Regions from separate parts of the Homo sapiens genome. Here regions 2, 3 and 4 are each linked to region 1. The links come from fine-mapping of genetic effects on gene expression. A gene starts in region 1. Each other region holds a variant in brackets. All regions are shown on one strand. Distances are from middle to middle.

Evidence for each region. PIP is the estimated chance that this variant, and not a neighbour inherited with it, causes the effect.
Region 2: its variant is the best candidate, but not a certain one, in a credible set for the expression of KATNAL1 in fibroblasts (GTEx, PIP 0.87).
Region 3: its variant is the best candidate, but not a certain one, in a credible set for the expression of KATNAL1 in iPS cells (iPSCORE, PIP 0.90).
Region 4: its variant is the best candidate, but not a certain one, in a credible set for the expression of KATNAL1 in aorta (GTEx, PIP 0.76).

What each region holds. Positions count from the first base shown.
Region 1 is chr13:30,304,876-30,310,478 of GRCh38, reverse strand. It overlaps KATNAL1 (katanin catalytic subunit A1 like 1), which reads left to right and starts at 2,928. Exons shown (of 11, transcript NM_032116.5): 1 at 2,928-3,148. RefSeq lists silencers at 2,924-3,153, 3,184-3,293.
Region 2 is chr13:30,193,704-30,199,306 of GRCh38, reverse strand. No RefSeq gene overlaps it. Among named protein-coding and RNA genes, the nearest start is that of LINC00385, 43 kb to the right of the region's middle. The variant T/C (reference allele first, on the strand shown) is at 2,684.
Region 3 is chr13:30,200,152-30,205,754 of GRCh38, reverse strand. KATNAL1 (katanin catalytic subunit A1 like 1) reads left to right here. Exons shown (of 11, transcript NM_032116.5): 11 at 1-3,125. Among named protein-coding and RNA genes, the nearest start is that of LINC00385, 49 kb to the right of the region's middle. RefSeq lists a silencer at 1,061-1,110. The variant A/G (reference allele first, on the strand shown) is at 2,690.
Region 4 is chr13:30,284,249-30,289,851 of GRCh38, reverse strand. The region is part of intron 1 of KATNAL1 (katanin catalytic subunit A1 like 1); the gene reads left to right. Among named protein-coding and RNA genes, the nearest start is that of KATNAL1, 21 kb to the left of the region's middle. RefSeq lists an enhancer at 3,351-3,973. The variant A/G (reference allele first, on the strand shown) is at 2,868.

The sequences.
Region 1 (5,603 bases):
TCCAAAGTATCTGGTGAAAACAATAAACTATGGTTTACTATCGGTCCTTATTCGTTCCTACCTGTCCATAGCCATGCGAGGCATTTTAAGGCTGTGCTTCAGTGGCTTGTGGTCTTCCCTCCCGCGACTGCCCACCTCCAACTCACTTTTGTGACAGCTTTTGTTTGTGCTGCTGTCATCCATTCTCAAGTGGCCTGTCCTGCTGAGCTGATTTTCTGGGATCCTGGCTTCACAAAACAAGGAGCGTTATGCATTGGGACCTTGTCTTTGGAGACTTCGTCATGGCTGTAGGCTGCACTACAACCTTGGCCAGCTGCCTTGCAAAGAAAGACAAGTGATCGGTCACAAGGGAAACCAGATCAGGGAGAGATGGATCCGGTGAACCTATCATCCCTACTACAAACATGTGTTCAGCTGGTAGCAGATCAGTAACATCTTCTCCAGGAGTAAAGGAGAATTTATTTACATGCTCATTACATATGCAGAGTTGTGACCAAATTGCTGCAGGTGACAGGTCCAAGTTCCTATAAGGATGTCCTATGGCTTCATACCAGACTTTGTTCCGGACTTCATCTCTTAAGTGCTGTCATTTCTTCTGTACAAGCTATGGTTACTTTGGTTTCTTTTCTTCCTCTTAGACAGCAGATTCCAGCTATTATCACATAGCTTCCTCATTTATACTAGAGTAAACCATTATTATGGATGTAAGAAAATGGGTTTCATAAGTGAACCCACTGTGAAGGTAGCCAGGACAGGTGTATTAGTCCGTTTTCATGCTGCTAATAAAGACATAACCAAGACAGGGTAATTTATAAAGGAAAGAGTTTTAATGGACTCAGTTCCACATGGCTGGGGAGGCCTCACAATCATGGCGGAAGATGAAGGAAGAGCAAAGGGGCTTCTTACACAGTGGCAGGCAAAAGAGCTTGTGTAGGGGAACTCCCATTTATAAAGCCATCAGATCTCATGAGACTTATTCACTACCATAAGAACAGTACGGGTGAAACCGCGCCCATGATTCAATTATCCCCACCTGGCCCTGCCCTTGACAGGTGGGAATTATTACAATAAAGTGAGAGGTGGGTGGGGACACAGCCAAACTATATCAACAGGTCATGTACGTAAGCTGCTTAATATTTATTGAGCAGCTACACTGTGGACTGAATCAAATAGAATATGAGGATACATATGTGAAAAAATATTATTTTAATAGCTGGCTCCAGAGTTCCTCTTGGGAAGTTACTTTGTGTAGGAAAAAACTTTGGTAAACAGTTTAGGAATGGCAGGTAGCTATGAAGGCACAGATTAGGAGATGGAAATAAAAGTATTGTATAAAGAGAGGAGAGGAGGGGAGAGATGGGACCAGAAAGATGGTACAATAGTGGGAGGTTACAGGTTATGATGAAAAAATGGGGGTAGGTGGTAGGTGGATAAAAATATCATGGGAGGAACTGAAGGACTTTTAAGAGCAGGGATTTCTAATTTTAGGTTTTTTGCATCCTTAATTTAAAACCACTTATCTGCTCCAAACCTTCTAAAGAGTTGGCTATAGAAACAACCAAAGAAAAGGGGCTGATTTCGAAATTATGTGTCAGCAGGAGTAGAGAGAGGAGAGTTGTAAGAGGTGATATGTGGAGAGGTCTAAGTGTTCAGGAAAAGCAAGAACTGAGAGCCAGAAGTGACGGTGCAATCCTTGAGAGGACATTGGCCGTGGGGAACACCACAAGGTGGATAAGGGACTCAGTCAAGTTCAAGAAAATCTCTGTGGTAGGATGACTCAGCTGGATTACAGGAGCCATTTTTGTTATTTTCAACCATAATTTTTCAGGAGATATTCATTACTAGAAAATGACAAGGTCACGAATTCACTCCCCTTCCTCTTTTTTTCTATTAAATTTCTGGGCCTCAGTTTTCCCATCTATAAAATCTAGAGATTGGGCCTAGAATATCTCTGTAGTTTCCATTAGAGTCTATAGCTCTAATAATAATAACAACACATTTTTATGTTCTCTTTTGAGGTAAATTTACATGCAGTGAAATGTACAAATCTTAAATGTCCCATTCCAAGAGTTTTGACAAGTGCATATACTTCTGTAACCGAAACTCTTAGCTATAGAATTTTTTCATCACTACAAAAAATTCTCTCAAACTCCTCCCCGACAGCCAACCACTATTCTGACTTTTATCACTATTGATTAAATAATTAATATTTAATAGCTATTGTTAAATGCTAAGCTTTGTTTTATAGAGCTTCATCAGTATTAATGCGTGTATTTCTTACAAGAGTTGCAAGATGGATATCTCCATTTTTGCAGATCAAAACGTTAAGAGGTGAGAAAGGCGCCTCTGGTCATCAGCTACCAAGCACAGGGGCAGGACGTGAACTAAGAATTCGTTTTAGAAGCCCACGCTCTTAACCTGTTTATCCTAGAGTCCACAAACGATTGCCAAGAAACAGCATAAATCCAAATTCAGTCGAAAGCAATGCCATTTGCAAATTCTAAAACCTCCTGAATAATCCTAAAGGCCATATGCATTCCATCTTATCGAAGGATTCCCTTCTATCCCCCTCCCCAGAGAATGGAGAAAGGGGGTGCGAAAGACTTCAATTCGGTTTGACTGGAGAAAAACACAGAGGTGGCGTAGGATCCACACATCCCTTGGGGGCAGACCCAGCGGCGGACGCCTGGACAGGCGGCGGGAAAGGCGCTGCGACGCCCCGGGTGCCCCCTCCTTCGACGCCACTGGCATCACCTCCGAAAGCAGCAGGCACGAAGGTGCCCTGCCACGGGGGCTGGACGCAGTGGAGGCAGGCTCATCAAGCACGACCAGAGCTCAGTCGGCCACACGTCCTCCTCAATGTCACTGTCTCCCTGCTCTCCCACCCCGCGCCGCTGCACCTCCCTCCCCCCGGCAACCTGGGCGGGAGTCCCAAGCTCCGCCCCAGAGCGGACTCACAGCCCCCGCGCTCCCTCCCGCGCTGCGCCCACCGCGCGGCCGCGGCTGCCATGGCAACACTACGCCGCCGCCGCCTTTTCACGCACGTCGCGAGCTAACGGACTCGGCGGCGGCGGCGGCGGCGGCCTGCGCCCCACCCGCACCCCATCTGGACCGCATCGCTGAATGTGCCCGGACCTGCGCCTTCTGGGTAATGAATCCGAGAGAAAGGGGCGAGGGCGAGACAGCAGGTGGTGGAGGGCTCTAGCCAACAGCCCCTCTCGGCCTCCCACTGCCGGAGACGCCAGGGCAGTGGGCTGCGGGGTTCCTCGGGCGCTGGCTCCCGTGCGGGGACGGGGAGGGGCGCGGGAGCGCCAGGCTCGCGGTGCATCATGGGAATTGTAGTTCAGCGACTCCTCGGGCTCGCGGTCTTGGTGGGGTAGCTCGGACTGGCGAACTACAAAGCCCGGCGGCCCCGACCGCCGGGAAAGACCGATAAACTTTGAGCGGACCGGGACAGAAAAAAAAATCTCTCTTTGTCTTGAGGGGGCTGTTGAGTGGTCGCGGACCTGGGCTCTGTGCGTTGGGAAAGGGAAGTGGAGGTGAGCCTCGGGCTTCCCGCCCTGTAGCTGGGCCCGCCCCAGTTGCAGCGCTCAGCCCCACCCCGGCTGGGCCACCGCCCTGCACAGTCTCAGGGATGAGCAGCCGCCCAAGCTGCAGGGCCTCGGGTCTTCGGCGCCTCTGACCCTCGCAGGTTGCTGCCTTTCGGTGCAGAACCGTATGTATGTCACACATTGGATGTGAGACCTGAGAAACCGTGTTTTAACAGGTTTTTCTCCTTTCCTGGATACGTTTATTTCTGGGTTAGTCATGTTTGTTTTAAAGTAGCTCAGAGGTGTTTGCATATTAAACCCATCAATTGGTAATTACTCAAAGGGCAGTAATGTTTAAAGGTTAAGTGTGGAAATAGATAAAAAGATGTCATTGCGATTATATGGTGGTATCTGGCATTTTTAACTTTTTGCATTTTTGAATTTTATTTCTTGAGGTTCAAGGTTGTGAAATGAGTGCTCCACCCCACCCCCCCCTTGCCAGCCTGAACACTGCCTACACATATTTTGATTAGTTCAGCTTTAAATTACTAGTAACTTTTAAAAACAGACTTTTTTAGCAGTAGGCAGCAATAATTCTTTGATTATTCCAGTGTTATTCAGAATTTCTCAGCATGTTTTCGGAAGGAAAAATACCATGTTTTAATTATTTAGTTAATTCTTTATATATTTTTTATGTTCAGGAGTACACTTGAGTCCTTAGAGTTGACTCAAAGACTTGCTGGTAAAGGAAGCTGACACAGATTTACGAAACCTTCCTTGACGACCCTTTAAAATTTTTTAATAGGTAGATAACCATCCTAGAAATTTGCTGCTTTATGGAGTAAGTTGGAGAATTGTTGATATTATTGTGAGTTTGTGTGTGTGTGTGTTTAAAAACAAAAAGACCACAAATCCTATAAAACTTTCTCTTAATTAAAATGAAGTTGACCTGTGTAAATTTTACTTGAGGTTGCAATTTTGTACAAGGAGGAGATGGAAAGTAGGTTTAGTAAGACAGGTAGAAAACAAAATTGAGGCCTTATGTGATACAACATAAGGTTTGAAGTATTTTATTTATTCATTCAAAATGTGTTAGGAACCTATGTGCCAGGCATTATGCCAGGTGGTGAGAATAAAGAGATGAAAAAAGATAGTCTGTATCCTGCATGGGCAGTCTTGTCATCACAGTAGTGTGGTAGAGATAAGTGCAAGTTGCTCTAGGAGCCCAGAGGAAATAATCACATAACAGTAACATTTATTGAATATGTCAGGTGCTGTGAGGAGTATTTTGCATGCAACTCCTTACTTAATCCTCAAAACAGTTGGTGAAGTAGTTACTGATTTTTAGAGATGAGGAAACAGGCTTTAGAGGCCTTGCTCAAAATCATAGCTGGTAACGTGTGAACCTGGGATTTCAGCCCAGGTGGGTCTGGTCCTGATCTCAAGCACTGACCATTCTCTGTCATTTAGTAGAAAGATCCTGACTCTGTCTAAGGAAGTCAGGGGAGGCCTTCAGTGTGATTTGACTTTTAACTTGTGTTAAAATAGTTGAATAAGCTTTCACTGGAGTGATGATGAGGAAAGTCATTCTAGGACAAATGGATGGCACAAAATAAGCAAAGGATAGATTGAAGAATCAGTATTTTGTATTTGGGAAACGCTAGGTAGTTCTGAATGACTGGATCCCAGAATACTTGCAATTAGTGGGTGAGGCCAGATCTTAAAGTACTTGGCACCATATTCAGAGTTTAGAATTTTTCTTGATATAGGGCAGTCATTGAAGAATTTTAGCTAGAGTGGTGGTGGCGTCAGATTTGTATTTTAGAAAGATAACTCCAGCCCCAGTGTAGAGAATGGACCTGGGAGGGGAAACATTACAGGTAGTAGAAAAGCCAGTTGTATAATAGAAAAAAACAAAGTCCAGTAGAGAAGTGAAGAGAGTCTGAATTAAGCATTTGGAGTTACAGAAAGACATGGATTCAAGGAATATTTAAGAGATAAAATTGATATGACTTGATAAGAGTTTGGATGTTGGGAGTTAGATTTGGAACTCTTAGCTGATTGATTCCTCAG
Region 2 (5,603 bases), 110 kb after region 1:
TGAAATGAACTAATCATTTTAAGAATTCCCATGAATCATATTTGGGCCACCAACTTAGGTGACATTGAGCTCTAACAGTTACTTTTATTCCTGGGATCTCCAGCAGTCCTCTGCTGACTGGATGACAGCTTCAGAGTCCTTAGCTGGACGCATAGTTGTCATAGGGGCTTCACCAAGTCATGGATGGGGCTCATTGTTCAACTTTGAAGCACCAGAACAAAGTTAATTCTGAATGTTCAAAATACCATGGCCACACCATCTGAACACACCTAATCTCGTCTGAATATTCAAAACGTCTGTCAATTACTACATCTTAAATAATTTTTTAAACAAATAACCATGGTATGACCACTGTATTCCATAACAAAAATCCTAAACTATAGTGTTAGTAATTATTACGTAATTAGATGTGGATGAATTGAACTTCATTTGGGTTTTGTAAAATACCTCAAGCTATTTTCCAAACATTTTGAAATATGTTTTGTAACATTTCTCAAATATACTTTACTAAACATATTTCCTTTAATTTTTAAATCCTTTTTAAAGTGTTTGTTTAAGGGGAAATTTAATCCATATGTTTCTGATTCATTTACACTTATCAAAGTTGTTTCTTAAGAAGAATTAGCTTTCTAAGAAGCCTGAGGAACTCTTCTCATGAATTCTGTTAGCCCTTAAAAGCCTTTTTCCAATCAAAACTTTTTTCCCCAAAGATAAATAAATGTGGATGAAATGTTTTAGTTTGGTTTGCAATACAAAGCCCATATTTCAAAATCTAACCTAGTTGTGAATTTAGGATAATAAACTATTCTGCCTTTACCATAAGAATTCACCTCATTTGTTGCTCTTCAAAGCAACTAACTGCAAAGGGTTTGCAATAACTGTGCTCTCTTGAAAACGCAGAACACTGACATTCCATACTGTGTTCTCAAATTCATAGCAAAGGTGACAGAGGTGGGCGGCTGAGCAAACATATTAAACTAAGTCAGCTAGTTATTGGGGATCTACCATGTATGCCAAATATGTATACAGTACATAGTCACACATATACATACATGTGAAAATACTCATTTAAGGTTTGTGTGTGTTTACCTGTGCTTACAAATTTTAACAAAATTTATTTTGTATTTTGTATTAATTATTCTGAAGTGACTACAATTGTTCTCATCTCTATTTAGAAATATTTTTCGCCTGAGATTTAGTTCAACACGTTTCTGTTGCCTAGCAGTAGGTTTTTGAGAATAGCTTTTTGTATAGCCTTAATTGAACAGGTTGATTGCATGAAATCTTCTTAGCAAAAGTAAAGTCATCACAGTGAAGGTAAAAGGAACTATGTTGACAACTAATTGGATAGAATGTCATAAACCGCAGTGGATCTGGAAGAGATTTGCAGAAACGTAGCAACAAAAGAAGGGAGTTTGTTCAAGGCAGCTAGAAACCGCATTCAGAAATATTCGTGTTAAAAGAAAGGCACCATTTTCCTTGGTTCTCATTAGGGAATTGTGTAAAATACATATTTGTTCATCACAAGAAATAATCAGTTCCTATTTTTAGTGGAAACTTTTTCCCTGAGTTGTTTAGTATGGGATTATTAGACAATAAAAACATCTTTTGTGTACTTTTCAAAATATAAACTAATTTCTTACATATTTCATTAGTTCGCGCCATAGATGAATTCTTAGTATTTTAGGAAAAAACTTTCATGGTAATTCCTTTTTAAAACCAGCACTTAAAATTGTCTTTATTTAAATCAAAATGCAAAACCTCTTGCATTAAGGGAGACTTTTACCTTTTACTTTGTATTTTTTCATATGATAATTATTTACTTTGTAAAAGAAATATAAAATTATAAAAAATTTTTAAAGCAATATTTGTAGACATCAAATCAGTGTCTGCCCTTCTGTCTCCCAGAAGCCCTTGGCCTAAGTAAGAGTCAATCATAGCTCTTGACCCCATTTCATTTGACCCATAGGGCAGGATTGTGTTGACCACTGTCACTGTCACTCTCACCTAGGACAGTGCTCTTCAGGCTTTGTTAACAATAAAGTGTGTGTGAGTTACACACTGTTACTATGTTGGTAGTTTAAGGATACTTGTAAATTATAGTAGTGCTTGTATATAATTTATAAAAATCCATGAAATGTAGAAATATGGAAGACTATAATGTGAAGACACTGAAAAGTAATCTTACTGCTACAAAATCCTTCCAAAAAATAGGAGTAATATTTTCATTGAGAGCCATGACATTAAATATACTTTATTTTTTTTTAAATCTTAGGATAACAATTTAGGGACAATGATTTCATTTTTATTTCAATGCTTAGTTTTAATGACTGTTACAGCTAAAAGTGTAACTTCACAAAGGTGTGTAGATCCAAGTGGAAGAAACAGATTATTGGCTGCAATCTGAAGTAATGAGCTTCATTTTAAAATCATGCCCACTAAGCAGAAGTGTTTATTTGGCTATTTGCGTCTTTCTTGATGTCAGTTCTTGCAAATTAATTGAAAGGTTGCATTTTATGTTGAATGTTCAGAACCTATTGCACCTCTTCATTTGGAAGATTTTAAAACAAACAGGACAATTATTTTAAGTTGCACATATTAGAGTTCTTAAAAAAGAGGCTCAGTGTTTTTGACAACAAAATCATGTAACAATGGAAAAACATTTCCCAACATCACTTTTCTT[T/C]ATGTAACATGGATTTCTTTCATATAGTAATTATTTTCTCATCCCTTTTTTAAAAAAAGAATAAAGTTGTAGAGTAGAGGAAGTAAGCATTTCATTTAACCTAAATATGTATATGAGCCTGTTTCTGTGCATACAGCAAAAATTTAATAAAACAATAGCTTTGCCTTTATTATATATGATACATTCTGACATTTTCTAATTGGTTTCATTTTGTAAAATTCCTGGACCTGCCCCAGGAAATTGATTTCATTACTTGTTAATGGTGGACAGCTTGCAATTTCAGACCTCCTCCTGGACTGCAGGGTGCCACTGGCTGCAGCCCTGGCCCTCTCCCAGCTTCCTCTGTGCGGATTACTCAGTGACGCATTTGATGAGTGGCCTGGTGAGCAGCAGCAGCCATGCCTGGTTTCCTGGCCACCTGGGGGCTCATCCTTCATGCTATTCCTGACAGGCCATTGTGAGTCTCTTTATCGTTTGAACCTGGCCAATCAGGTTCTCAGGGTCAGGCCCTGGGCATCTGCCCTCTCTCTGCCTTCCTCCCTAACCCTCAAATGCCTGGGGATTCTAACTATCCCAGTGGTGGTTTTCTTGATTTTGATCAGTCTAGACATGATAGTTCTTGAAAGATTTAAGACACGCTTAATTTCTGTTGAGTTTTTATTTCTCCTCAGTCTTAAAATTATTCCTGACTTCTAGATATGATATGAATATGTCACTGTTCATTCCTTTTTAAAAAGTCAGCAGTGATCCCTGTGCCAGTGTCAAAAACAGTTTCTCCATCTGATGTTAAAAACATCCCCTGGGGAAGGACCAGCTCACTGTGCTTCTTGTGCTAGTATAGGACATTTAGATAGCTGCCAGCTCCCTAGGGCAACACAGCTGCTTGGTGACCTCTCTTTGTTCCTGGAAAAGGAATAGGGCTCTTCAGTTATAGTACATGGTATTGGAATCGTTCAAGGGAGGACCAAGAGAGGAACAGAGACTCTTAGTCACTAACAGGAAAGTGTTAAGGTTTGAGAGTCAGACTGGAAGGAAGAATCAAGGAAGGAGAGGATCGAGTTTTCAAGGGAAAGGAATCCTTATGTGTTCTGCTGTGAGTGGGTGAAGAAGGTTGACAGAAGCCACAAATAGTTGGTCTTATTTGGACTGTGCCTCCTGTGGCCAAGGCACTGTTCCTGCTATTTGGCTAGATACTTATTGGCTATTTAAAACAGGCCTCTTTTGGATCATGAGATGTATTTGGGTATTGTGAGAACTTCAAGTCTGCAGTCAGAAAACAATTCTAGCCTCAGCTGTACCACTTCTAAGCTGTGGGACTTTGGGCAAGTTACTTATCCTCTCTGTGGCTGTGTTATCTCACCTCAAAATGGAGATGATAACAGGACCTTCCTTTGTAGGACCATTGGGAAGATTAAATGAGATACTGAATTTAAAGTGCTTATCACGGCACCATACAAACCCTTAATGTTAGCTGCAGTGATGTGCGAGGGCTGGTACATACCAGGCTGTCCCAAAGCCAACTGTGGAATGTTAAGGAATGTCGCAAGCCTTTCCACCGTTGATAGCTGAAACTGTAGCCGCGGTGAGAGGATTCACACATGGAAATTGGCAAACACTACACATCAGGGCTTTACCTATCCCCTATCCCCCTGGAAGAGTTAGTTTACCAGCGTATCACAGGTTAGCTCTTTTTATTTTTGTGGAGTTTTTTTCCCCACTGCAAGTAATGCGGGTCCACGTGTGTACCCTGGCTCTTTGTCGCTCCCTCTGAAAAAAGTGGATGCAGTGAGGGTAATACTCCTAAGCTTGCCAGTCGTTGTGAACAGGTCAGTCTGACTTTCAGTGAGCCATTTTTGACTCAAAGAGTGAATGGCTGTTTTGGGGTCTGCCAAAATTAGGGGCCCTTCTCTTCCCTGAACTAGACTATATACTCTGATACTTTTATCGCAGTGTTACAGAAGTCTTAGGATACTAGTAGTGGACAAAAATATTCCCCTTCCCTTTTATTCCCTGAGAAATACAGTCTGAGCTGTATCTAGGCAATACCCACACTGCCTTCAGACTTTTTCCGAAGTGGAGTTCATCAATCATCCAGGAGGCTCTGAGCCCCATGATTGGCATGGCTTACCTAGTGGCCGTGGTAGACATATGCGCATGGAGGCATTTTGCTGAGGGCTTGTGAGAGCTATTTGGCACCTTTTCCAGCAAAGGTGGGAGAGGAAGGAGGAGAAGAGGTTCTGTTCTCACCTATTTTAATACCCGAACCAAAAAATGGAAGTTGCTGGTAGCACTGAATTAGAACTCTTGCCTCATTTAGCACACTAATCATCAAAAGTCTCTATTTTCAATAGAAGCAAAGCATAATTTCTCAATAAAGAGGCACTTCAAATAGGGGATTTACAAACATTACACATTGTCTTTCCTGTTGCAGCTATGAAACATACCTTCTAGAGAAAATCACACAGATTTTGTTTACTTTGCTTAAGAATTGCAGACTAGAGTCATGATTTGTTAGTCTCATTTGCTTTTCACAAGAAAAAGCATTATATAATGTCCGAGGGTCTCAGGTTCCATAACGGGGACTTTCCCAAGGTCTTTCATAACGAAAGTTTCTGTGCAGCCCATGGGAGATTACACAGGGAGGGAGTCTGGAGACTCTCACGAGGACTTATTTTTGTCTATTCTAATTTGAATCTCATACAAGTATTTCTATAGGCCTATTATTTACACCTATATATCAGTCCAACTTACTGAATGCCAACAAATTTGAGACACAACTCCTGTCCTCAAGGAACTCATGTCCTGGTAGAGAAAGCCATGAAGCAGTCATAGGATACTGTGTGTGGTTATAACAGCATGCACCTGAGAAATGGTCTGGAGGAGGTGAGGTCAGCCACGTGCTGAAGCAAGCAGAGGTGTT
Region 3 (5,603 bases), 100 kb after region 1:
CACAGTCTTTATTGCAGAAGACAGTGTGTTGCCTTACCAGAATGAGTGCTTGGATTACAGGCGTGAGCCACTGTGCCCAGCCCTAACTTTTAATGTACATCACACACACACTCACACTCACATACACACACACACACACACTCTGACTGTCTTTATTGCAGAAGACAGTGTGTTGCCTTACCCAGAATGAGATTGAATTGTTTTGCTTCGTTTTGTTTTGTTATTCAGTGTTGCGGTAGCAGATGCATTATCAAAGGAAAAATATTTGGCTCCTTTAATTCCTCTGAAAACATGAGTATTTTGAGTTCTGCAGCACAATGACTGTAGGACTAAGCTAAGTCTGCTTTGCAGATATCTGATCAGATAGTCCCTTCATTCTGTAGACGTGTATTGGTTGGTCCAAGACACAGTGAGTAGGAGCTCTGTGGACCAAGACAAAGCTGGACTAGAGAGTACAGTTCAAACTTGGCAGTTTCTCTAACGACTCTGTATAGCTTCTGGCTTCTACTACTGAAACAAGAGTTTAGATCACTGATGGAGAGGCATAGTAATCTGTTTGTGCTTTGGAAAAATATATAAAAGTTTTTTTCCCCTATTTTTTGCACTTTAAATCTGTTTTGAAATTAGAACTGATATACATTTATTTGAATAATGTGTAACTATTATGGATCTATTTTAATGAACAATTTTTACCATTTCCCAAGCTGCCTGTTTATTATAAGCATGACATGTTTACTATAAACCTTTTGCCCCCATAATTTCTTTTTTTAAAGGAAATTAATATTAGTAAAATAAACACCTCTTTAATGGAAGCTGCAACCTTCTAGTGATCCAAGTAGACAATAGATGGTGGCATCACAGACTTTATCTACACACTTTCGGGTCTGACCACTACCTCCCACAATACCTAGCCATTTTGGAAGGGGAAAACATGCGGTGGTCTAGCTGTATAGCTCAGGGCTTAATTTCAGCTTCTGAGATTGTGATGTCATATTTCACTCTCAAAACATAGGCTGAAAGCACGAATTACTCAAAAAGTAAGCAAACCAATACCTGGTGAATCTATGGACAGTCATACACATACATCAGGGGAAAATGTGTGTGTACAACCCAAATTTACAGTATGATTGTCATTCTTTGACTTTGTTTTGTATAGCCTGACTCTGTTGAACATGAAATTATTAGTACTCTAGGTTTTGGACAGCTTGAGTTCATTTGAATTCCTTCCTTAGGAATAAGTTTTTATATACACTGCTAAATGTGTGATGAGAATCATAAAACACTAACCAGCTGAGGTAGCTGTGATTCACTTTCCCCCCACCCTAACTTGAGATAAAATGAAGGACTAGGCAAGTATTTCATGTTGTGTGAGTGGACTTCGGTTCCTTCAGTATTGTCTAGGTTATTGAGTCTTTCTTTGCCTAATAGTGGATTCCCACTCTTAAGATAACTTTTATTAGTGATAAATCAGTTTAGGGTATATTCTGTATGACAGGCATAAAATGTTAAGGGTGAATGCTGGCCTTTTCCAAGAAAAGGCCACCTTAACTTGTATGAGGAAAAAATCCTAACTATTCTCTTTTTTGTATCTTTTTTTCCGTAACTGTTTTGATTGTATATTTTAAAGAAACCACTTAATTTGTGATGCACGTAATATTTGTGTGAACCTGAGAATATGTCACAATAGGAAAAAGCAGAAATTATACTTAGGGGACATGTTAGGGGGGTAAAAATATTTAAGCCTCGAATGTTTTACTGTCATCTCCACTAACTATTTTTACAGAAAAAGCTAAAAACTCTGTTGTAATTATTGTAAGTTTACTTATTTATACTTTTAAATTAGGCTTTTCATACTTAAATTTTTTTGACATTTGCTTTTAATATTTGTTTCTTAATGTGGAAATTGTGTATTTTAATAATCAAATTATTAGGATAATAGATATATTTTTAAACATTCACCTCATTAACAAATAGATCTTTGAATTTTTATTAGGTTTTTTGGCTCCAGACAACTGTTTAGCTTTAATGATATTTCTAAATTCCCAGTGACTTATTAATAAAAACAGGAAAAATATTTAGGTAATGTCATAAAATTTATTTTACCTTTCTCATTTTCTGAGAAAATAAATGAAAAAAACCCTAGATATTGCTTTATTACCAACAGTGTGTAGGTTTTTGTACATATGGAAATTTGACACAAAAAAATAGGGAATTTGTATAGAGAAGTTTCCCTCTTATAAAAGGACTCCCATTTGATTGTTCGAAACTATAAAATGCACTTTTACTTTACCATATCTGAAATGACAAAATATCGCCCTTTGGAAAACCTGACTCTTTGCACGTGTAATTCCCAGAGTCTACCTCAGTTAACCAGGCTTAGTTTTAGGCAGGAATGAATTGAATTAAATTCAGTTCATCATCTATGCAGATTTGTTTCTTTTAAGCACATCCTTCCCTCCTGCTGTTGCCCTCCTCCCATTAACTTTTCTTTTTAATCTTGAAATTGTTTAAAATATTCCATCTTTCTTTCTCTAGCAAAGTGTTTGTATTCCAAATAAGGCCTCTGTGAAATGTCTGAATTACTTTTCCCGTCTTTGTTATGGTCAGCTTCATTATTTGGATGTATTGCATTCAAAGCAGCAGTTCCAAACATAACACACATCTATTTTCTTAGAGTTTTGTAAATACA[A/G]ACTAACCTGATGACATTAAAAATTGTGGATCCTACATGTTCCTATGTTCATTCTCTAAAAACCTGAGTAACTTTATGAAAACACACAAACCTGGAAAAACATCACATTTTTGTCACATTTTTACTGACAAATGTATATTCATATGATGGTACGGCAGCAGGGAGTGGCCCCCAGTTAACATGGCTGTGAGTGGACACAGTGTCTCGCAGGATCACTGCATGTTATGATGGCTTGTAAGTGCGTTGTTAAGACTTTTGTTTCAGTGTTTGTCTCCCAGTATTTGAACCTAATTTAAAGAAAAAGACGTTTCCAAGTTGTATTTATTAAATGTGTTTTTCCTTACCTTTTGTGCTGCTACTTTGCTAATCTCATTAGCTTAGCTGTGTTTGTGCATAGGTTATATTTGGTAATAAATTTATAGAGTGTTGGTTGTCATCGCTTTCTTTGTGGTTCATTTTGACCTATAGTCACGGGTGCACTTCTTGCCACCAGTGGGAGCAACAAACCCCTCACTAGTAAGGGATGGCTTTCCCCAGATTTTTGTTCTCATAAAATCACATATTATAAACCTGACATTTTGTATTTGCTGTGCTTATGCCAATAATTTCAAGGTTGATGCAGGTAAGATGTGTGTTTTTTCAGTTAATTCCAACTGGCATAATCAATACACTTGTCTTATTTGTGTAGCACCATTGCAAAGTAGATGTTCCATATGGTGCATTTTCTAGATGACTAAGTCTTACTTTATGACCTCCTCCAAACAATTTTTTTAGTTAATAGACTTTATTTTTTTTAGAGCAGTTTTATGTTTACAGAAAAATTGAGCAGAAAATTTGGAGCTCCCATTTACTTACAACCCCCGCCCCAGTTTCTCCTCTTACTAACATCTTACATTAGTGTGGTATATTTGTTATAATTGATCAACTGATGTTGATGCATTATTATTCAGTAATTGACAGTAGTTGACATTAGGGTTCACTTTGTGTTATACACTTTTATGGGTTTTGACAAAAGCATAATGTCATGTATCCATCTTTACAACAGCAGACAAAATCGTTTCACTGCTTAAAAATTCCCTGTGTTCCACCTATTCATTTTTCCCTCGCCTCCCAATTCCTGGCAACCACTGAGCCTTTTAGTGACTCTCTAGTTTTGTCTTTTCCAGAATGTCATATAGTTGGAATCGTATGTAGCTGTTTCAGACAGGCTTCTTTTACTTAGCAGTATGCATTTAAGTTTCCATGTCTTCCTGTAGCACGATAGCTCATTTCTTTTTAGCACTGAATAACACTCCATTGTCTGGATGTACCACAATTTGTTTATCCATTCACCTACTCAAGGACATCTTGTTTGCATCCAAGTTTTAGCGATTATGAGTAAAACTGCTATAAACATTCATGTGCAGGTTTTTGCAAGTGCATAAGTTTTCAACTTGAGTAAATACGAATGTGATTGCCAGAACGTATGGTAAGAGTATGTATAGTTTTATAAGAAGCTACCAGACTATCTTCCAAAGTGGCTGTACCGTTACATATTCCCACTTGCAATGGATAAAGGTTTCTGTTGCTCCACATCCTCATCAGCATGTGGTAGTGTCGGTAGTTTGGGTTTTGCCATTCTAATAGCAATAATGAGGCTAACAAGCCTAACAGCTGTTTCACTAGGTTCACTGATAGGTGTGTAACGGTACCTCATTGTTTCCATTGCAGTTTCCAGATGATGTGGAACATTTTTTCACATGCTTATCAATTTGAAACTTTGCTAAAGCATATCACATTTGTTCCTTGAGTTTGTAAACTGAAGAATTGGAACTTACCCTTTTCTTTAGGATTCAGAGTTGTTATGAGGTCAGTCAGTCCCTTGTTTTATGCCACTCTCTGCAGTTAGTGGAGGGGTAGCACAGCTTTTTTTTTTCTTTAAAGCTCTCTCACTGACTGGTCTTTGAATTTTGATGTTTGCTTTTATAACATTTCCACTGGTCTCTTATCAGCCTTTCTTCCTCTTCAGTGTCCTATTTCTAGTCTTCAGTGAACCTAGAGAAATAGTTGTTAGGCTTGTTAGCATCATGTGTAAATGAGTACTGCAGTTTAGGGATGAGGAGTGGTAGGGAGGTCTATTCTTTGGGCTCTAGTGCTGTGTGTCGTTTCTCTGGGCTATCCGCGGCCTTTTTACCTCTATCTTTGGATCCCAGAAGTGCTCCTGGTGGACCAAGTGTGAAGTAGATATTTTTGCATAATTATGCTGCCATGCAGTTGTGTAATATTTATAACTGGAAGGGACCTAGCAACAATTTAATGCCATGGCCCCAGCCGTAATTTTCTTCCTGTGGCTTTAAGTGAGGTTTCGGTCTCTTGGGGGGTATAAAGAAAAAGAATTAGGTTAAGTGGGACAAAGACAGGAGACATTTGTGGCTAGAGCCCTCCCACTCTCCCTGCAGTCCTTTCTCCAGTGCATATGACCAGTGCCACCTGTGACTGACCTGGCTCCCATGGCAGAGCATGGCACAGTGTTGGAGTGTTTGCCCAGAGATGCCAGGAATTTAACTAGAAATCGTGAGGGAAGATGGAAGCATTGCCTGGCTCCGTCTCTTCCCAGCATCAGCTGCTACCTTTCTAATGATAAGCAGAAAGGCAGGGTGGGCTCAGGTCTCACCTGGCTGGTTCCAACAACTGATGCCCCAAGGCTGGAGGCTGGTACTCAGGTGCTCCTCCCCCTCCCTGGCTGGATGTCACCACTTCAACTGCACCTGGCCAGGCAGACGTGGGGCTTCACCTGGGCATTCCTCTGGCTCCTGCTACACCCAGAACAGGGCAGAAAGGGATCAGGGGAGAGAGCACATGTGCTTGGTGGTTACTTCTTATCCTTTTTACAATCAGAAAAGCTTGATGGGCAACTCTTTCCTAGTTTTACCCA
Region 4 (5,603 bases), 21 kb after region 1:
AAACCATGTGGCATTCTCATTGCTTTTGCACTGCTGTTTCTGAACTGTAATCACTGTTTTAAGTGCCATGCATATCACTGTGCTGTGACATTTTACTTTATTATCAATGCATACACATCATGTCAAAACAAGAAAAGATGAAAAAAATAGACTTGGAATGTTATACTTTTAAAGCATGCTGAAGCATGGATTATTGAGTTATGACAAGGCATTGTATTATGCAGTGATACTATAGCTGTGTTAAATACAATATACACTGATATTACCAGACTCTGCATTCATCACAATATTCCCAACTCACAGGAAAGTAATGGTCAGAAAAATGAGAAAACATAAAAAGGAATATCTTATTCCAGTAGAATTTCTTTACAAAATTAGAAAATAAAAATCAGGCTGCACCCAGAGTAAACTTCCAAGTGGCTCATTTGTTAACCAAGCAAGGAAGTCATTTATCAATAGTGAAGTAACTAAATTGTGTTGGTTACAACAGGCGCAGAATTGTGTCTGGAGAAGGTAAACTTAAGACTGTTAGTCTTTTGGCAAGAAGAGTTGCTCAAAGAATTGAGGACATCAATAATCAATTAAAAAGGCAAATTATTTTGAGTGGTTTTCCTTGGCTTTTGATGAGTTGACAGATGTTACCAATACTGCTCAGTTGTTTATTTGAAAAGTCAAGGCTGAGTTTGAAGTGTTAAATAATCTTAATGAATAGTGTGTGTAGAATAGCTAAAGATAAGAATATTTCAAAAAGTTGAGAAAACACTAATGGCATGCAACCTGAATGAAGTGTAGTCTGCTAAGATGTGTTATAACTGATGGTAGTAAAAATTTGTATAGAATAGAAAAGAATTCAGGTGGACAAATAAAGCTGTGAAAGTGTAAGAAGTTTGAAGTCTACAGTTACTTATTTTATTTCTTAGCAGGTATTTTGCAGAGAATGTTTGAATCTATCATGTAATCTTGAACCAGTAGTGTCAACATTTGCTCTTGTGGACTTAACCATTGTCAGTTCTAGGAATTTTTGTCAGAAATAGAAGCTGAATATTCTCACTTGCCCTGCTGTACAGCAATTTGATGGTTTAATAGTTGTAAGGCTTTATTGCAAACTTTTGAATTTAGAAGTGAGATTGAAATTTTTCTGAATGTGAGAAACTGCTGTCAATCTGAATATTGAACGCTGAATGGCTTTAGAAATCAATTTGTGATGCAGACTCAATAGTATTTCTTAATGAATTCAACCTAAAATTACAAGACAAAACAGTTGTTATATCAAAACTAATACTGCAGTAAAGTTATTTCAATGGCAACCACTATTCTTTGAATCACAAGTAATATCAAGTAATTTTATATAGCTTTCCATGCTGTTATAAGTTAAAGCAAAGAAGTAAGGTCTCCATTCCTACCCAGTTTGCAATAGGTATGTTTTCTGAGTTCAAACTACAGTTTCAGCAGCATTTTTTAGAACTCGATGTAAGTGCCAAGGAAATTTCCATTTAACTGTGCAGTTGAGGCACTTCTTATTTAACCTTTAATTGGAATGATTAATCTGCAAATAATGGCACGTAAATACTAAGAGTAAATCCTTTAGATGCCTTCCAAACAATGATTATGCTGAATTGAAATCATATGCTTGTGACTACTATCAGTATAAAGTAGCACCTAACCTACTTTGAAAAGTAGACATTTTCAAACATGAAATGTATTGTATTCAAGGTAAACATTAGAATGTATGAACATTTGTGATTGATTTTGATGATAGGGAATACTAACTTTGAATCCCAACTAAGTGAAATATTGTCCCTAAAAAGAGTTTCATTCTTCTCCTTAGTCAACCTGTCTTACAGAAAGTTGTACTCTGTTATTGTTTCTATAATATTTTGAATTGCATCGATAAGAATTATGGAATTTTTTGTCTCATTATATAAGTAGTTATATAATATCCTTCATTTTGTTTGTTAGCTGTCAAAGCCTAAAATATTTACTTGTTAGGTCTTTTACAGGAAAAGTTTGGCAACCCCTGATTTGTATCAGGATATTTTTATCTTTTATAGTTTTGTGTCTGTATTTGTAAGTAGGATTTATGCTTTTGTTTCACAATGACTTTAAAGGGAAATAATTTATAGAGCATCTTTGTTTCTACTGGATTTATTAATTACATATTATTCATTATAATAAGGCCATATTGTTTCGTGTTAATGTTCTAAATTTGAAGATGACACTTTGTGTGGTTGTCCTGTATTCTGTGGATAGATCCACTGGACATTGAAATTTGTTACTGTGTAAAAGTAGTTGTATTAGTCCATTCTCATGCTGCTATGAAGAAATACCTGAGACTGGGTAATTTATAAAGAAAAGAGGTTTAAGTGACTCACAGTTCTGCATGGTTGGGGAGGCCGCAGGAAACTTACAATCATGGCGGAAGGCACCTCTTCACAGGGCTGCAGGAGAGAGAATGAATGCCAGCAGGGGAAATGGCAGATGCTTATAAACCCATCAGATCTCATGAGACTCACACATTATCATGAGAACAGCATGGGGGAACCACCCCCATGATCCAGTCACCTCCATGTGCTCCTGCCCTTGACATGTGATTATTACAATTCAAGGTGAGATTTGGGTGGGAACACAGAGCCAAACCATATCATCCTGCCTGTGGCCCTTCCCAAATCTTATGTCCTCACATTGCAAATCATTCCTTTCCAACCGTCCCCCAAAGTCTTAACCCATTCCAGACTCAAAAGTCCAAATCCAAAGTCTCATCTGAGACAAGGCAAGTTCCTTCCACCTATGAGCCTGCTTCAAAAGCAAGTTAGTTACTTTCTAGATATAAGGGGAGTATAAGCATTGGGTAAATATACCTGTTCCAA[A/G]TGGGAGAAATTGGCTAAAACAAAGGGATATAGGCCATGCAGTTCTGAAATCCAATCGGGCAGTCATTAAACCTTAAACTTCCAAAATTATCTCCTTTGACTCCACGTCTGACATCCAGGTCACACTGATGTCAGAGGTAGGTTCCCATGGCCTTGGGCAGCTCCACCCCTGTGGCTTTGCAGGGTACATCCCCACCTTCTGGCTGCTTTCACAGCTGACCTTGAGTGTCTGTGGCTTTTCCAGATGCATAATGCAAGCTGTCAGTGGATCTACCATTCCGGGATCTGTAGGATGGTGGCCCTCTTCTTACAGCTCCACTAGGCAGTGCCCTAGTGGGGACTCAGTGGAAGTTCCAGCCACACATTTCCCTTCCACACTTCCCTAGCAGAGGTTCTCCATGAGGGTCCTGCCCCTGCAGCAGACTTCTGCCTGGACCTCCAGGCATTTCCATACATCCTCTGAAATCTAGGTGGAGGTTCCCAAACCTCAGTTCTCATCCTGTGCACTTGCAGGCCCAGCACCATGTGGAAGCTGCCAAAACTTGGGGCTTGTACCCTCTGAAGCCATGGCCTGAGTTGTACCTTGGCCCCTTTTAGCCATGGCTGGAGTGGCTGGGTGCAGAGCACCAAGTCCCGAGGCTGCACACAGCAGAGGGGCCCTGGACCCAGCCCAGGAAACCCATTTTTCCCTCTTAGGCCTCTGGGCTTGTGATGGGAGGGGTTGCCGACATCTCTGACATGCCCTGGAGGCATTTTCCCCATTGTCTTGGTGATTAGCTTTTGATTCCTTGTTACTTATGCAAATTTCTGCAGCTGGCTTGAATTTCTCCCCAGAAAATGGGTTTTTCTTTTCTATTGCATTGTCAGGCTACACATTTTCTAAACCTCTATTCACTGCTTCCCTTTTAAACATAAATTCCAATTCCAAACCATATCTTTGTGAATGCTTAAAACTGTATGCTTTTAAGAGCAATCCCCCCTTCCAAATCACCTCTTGAACACTTTGCTGCTTAGAAATTTATTCTGCCAGATACCATAAACACCTCTCTCAAGTTCAAAGTTCCACAAATCTCTAGGGCAGGGACAAAATGCTGCCAGTCTCTTTGCCAAAGCACAGCAAGGACAAGTTCTTCTTCATCTGCAACCACCTCAGCTTGAACTTCATTGTCCATATCACTATCATCATTTTGGTCAAAACCATTCAGCAAGTCTCTAGGAAGTTCCAGAGTTTCCCACATTTTTCTGTGTTCTTCTGAGCCCTCCAAACTGTTCCAACCTCTGCCTGCTACCCAGTTCCAAAGTCACTTCCACATTTTCAGGTATCCTTGTAGCAGCACACCACTCCTGGTACTAGTCTACTGTATTAGTCCTTTCTCACACTGCTGTGAAGAAAAACTTGAGACTGGGTAATTTATAAAGAAAAGAGGTTTAATTGACTCCCAGTTCTGCATGGCTGGGGAGGCTCAGAAAACTTAGAATCATGGGGGAAGGCACCTCTTCACAGGGCAGCAGGAGAGAGAATGCATGCCAGCAGGGGGAATACCAGATGCTTATAAAACCATCAGATCTCATGAGACTTACTCATTATCACAAGAACAGCATGGAGGAAACTGTCCCCTTGATCCGTTACCACCACGTGGTCCTGCCCTTGACACGTGGTGATTATTACAATTTAAGGTGAGATTTGGGTGGGGACACAGAGCCAACCCGTATTAGTAGTGTACTATTTGTTGCAGTGTGATTCTCAAGTAATACAACTCTGCCTTCATGGAACCTTATAAGAGGAAAATAACATGCCAAACACATAAACATTTGTTTTTAAAAATGTGTTGGAGTCCTTTGAAATGCCTAGAACTAGTGATGGTTAATTTTCAGGAAGAATTTTTGAGTCCCTGAAGAACAGATAAGAGATTGAGAGTCAGAGTAGAAGAGTCAGGCTCCCCAAACCAAAGTTTAATTCCCTGAAGAAGGCATAGAGTAGTATTTTGATTTTCTTCTTTATGTGTATTCATTGGTTTACTGTTCCTGGAAATCAGAAGGCAATTTTGACACTTTCTCAGGATATCATTCTCCTGTAACTCTGGACTTGCTATTCTTTTTAGTCTTGGGAGGAAAGTATCTTTGCATAGAAGCCTTGGATGATTCTAGGAGACTTTTGGAAAGCCTGGAAGAAAAGCCAGAATTACTGGACTGGAGAGCTTTGGTGGAAGCCAGAAATCTAGAGGGTATTCTAACTAACATCTTATAGAAAGGAAAATAACAATAGTTATTTGCATGGCCAAAAAGATATAGAGAATGATGGGGTCTTAGAAGATTACAAATTGGGGTTCAGAGAGTGTAATTTATAGGTGTTTGCTTAGATTTAAGTTTGAGGCAATTACATGAGTATAAATGGTACATGGACAACTATAGACTGTTCTTTAAAATGTATTCTTTAAGTATAACTTTTTATTCTTGGGGCCAAGAAGTTTTAGTGATAACTAGTTTTTATAGTTTCAACTGACTTCAGTAGAAAATATATTCATATATTTATGTGATATTCATATTTTTTATATTGTCAAGAATAAATTGAATAAAAAAAAATTTCATCTGTTATTGCAGCCTATGGTAATTATAAAGGAATAAGGAAAACTAGTGTCCGGTTTTATGTACCTGTAAGTAAATCAGTAGTTCAGAGCTGTGTAACCTTTCTCCCTATTATTTCCGTGGGTGTTCTTTTGTAATCTCCTTTGTACT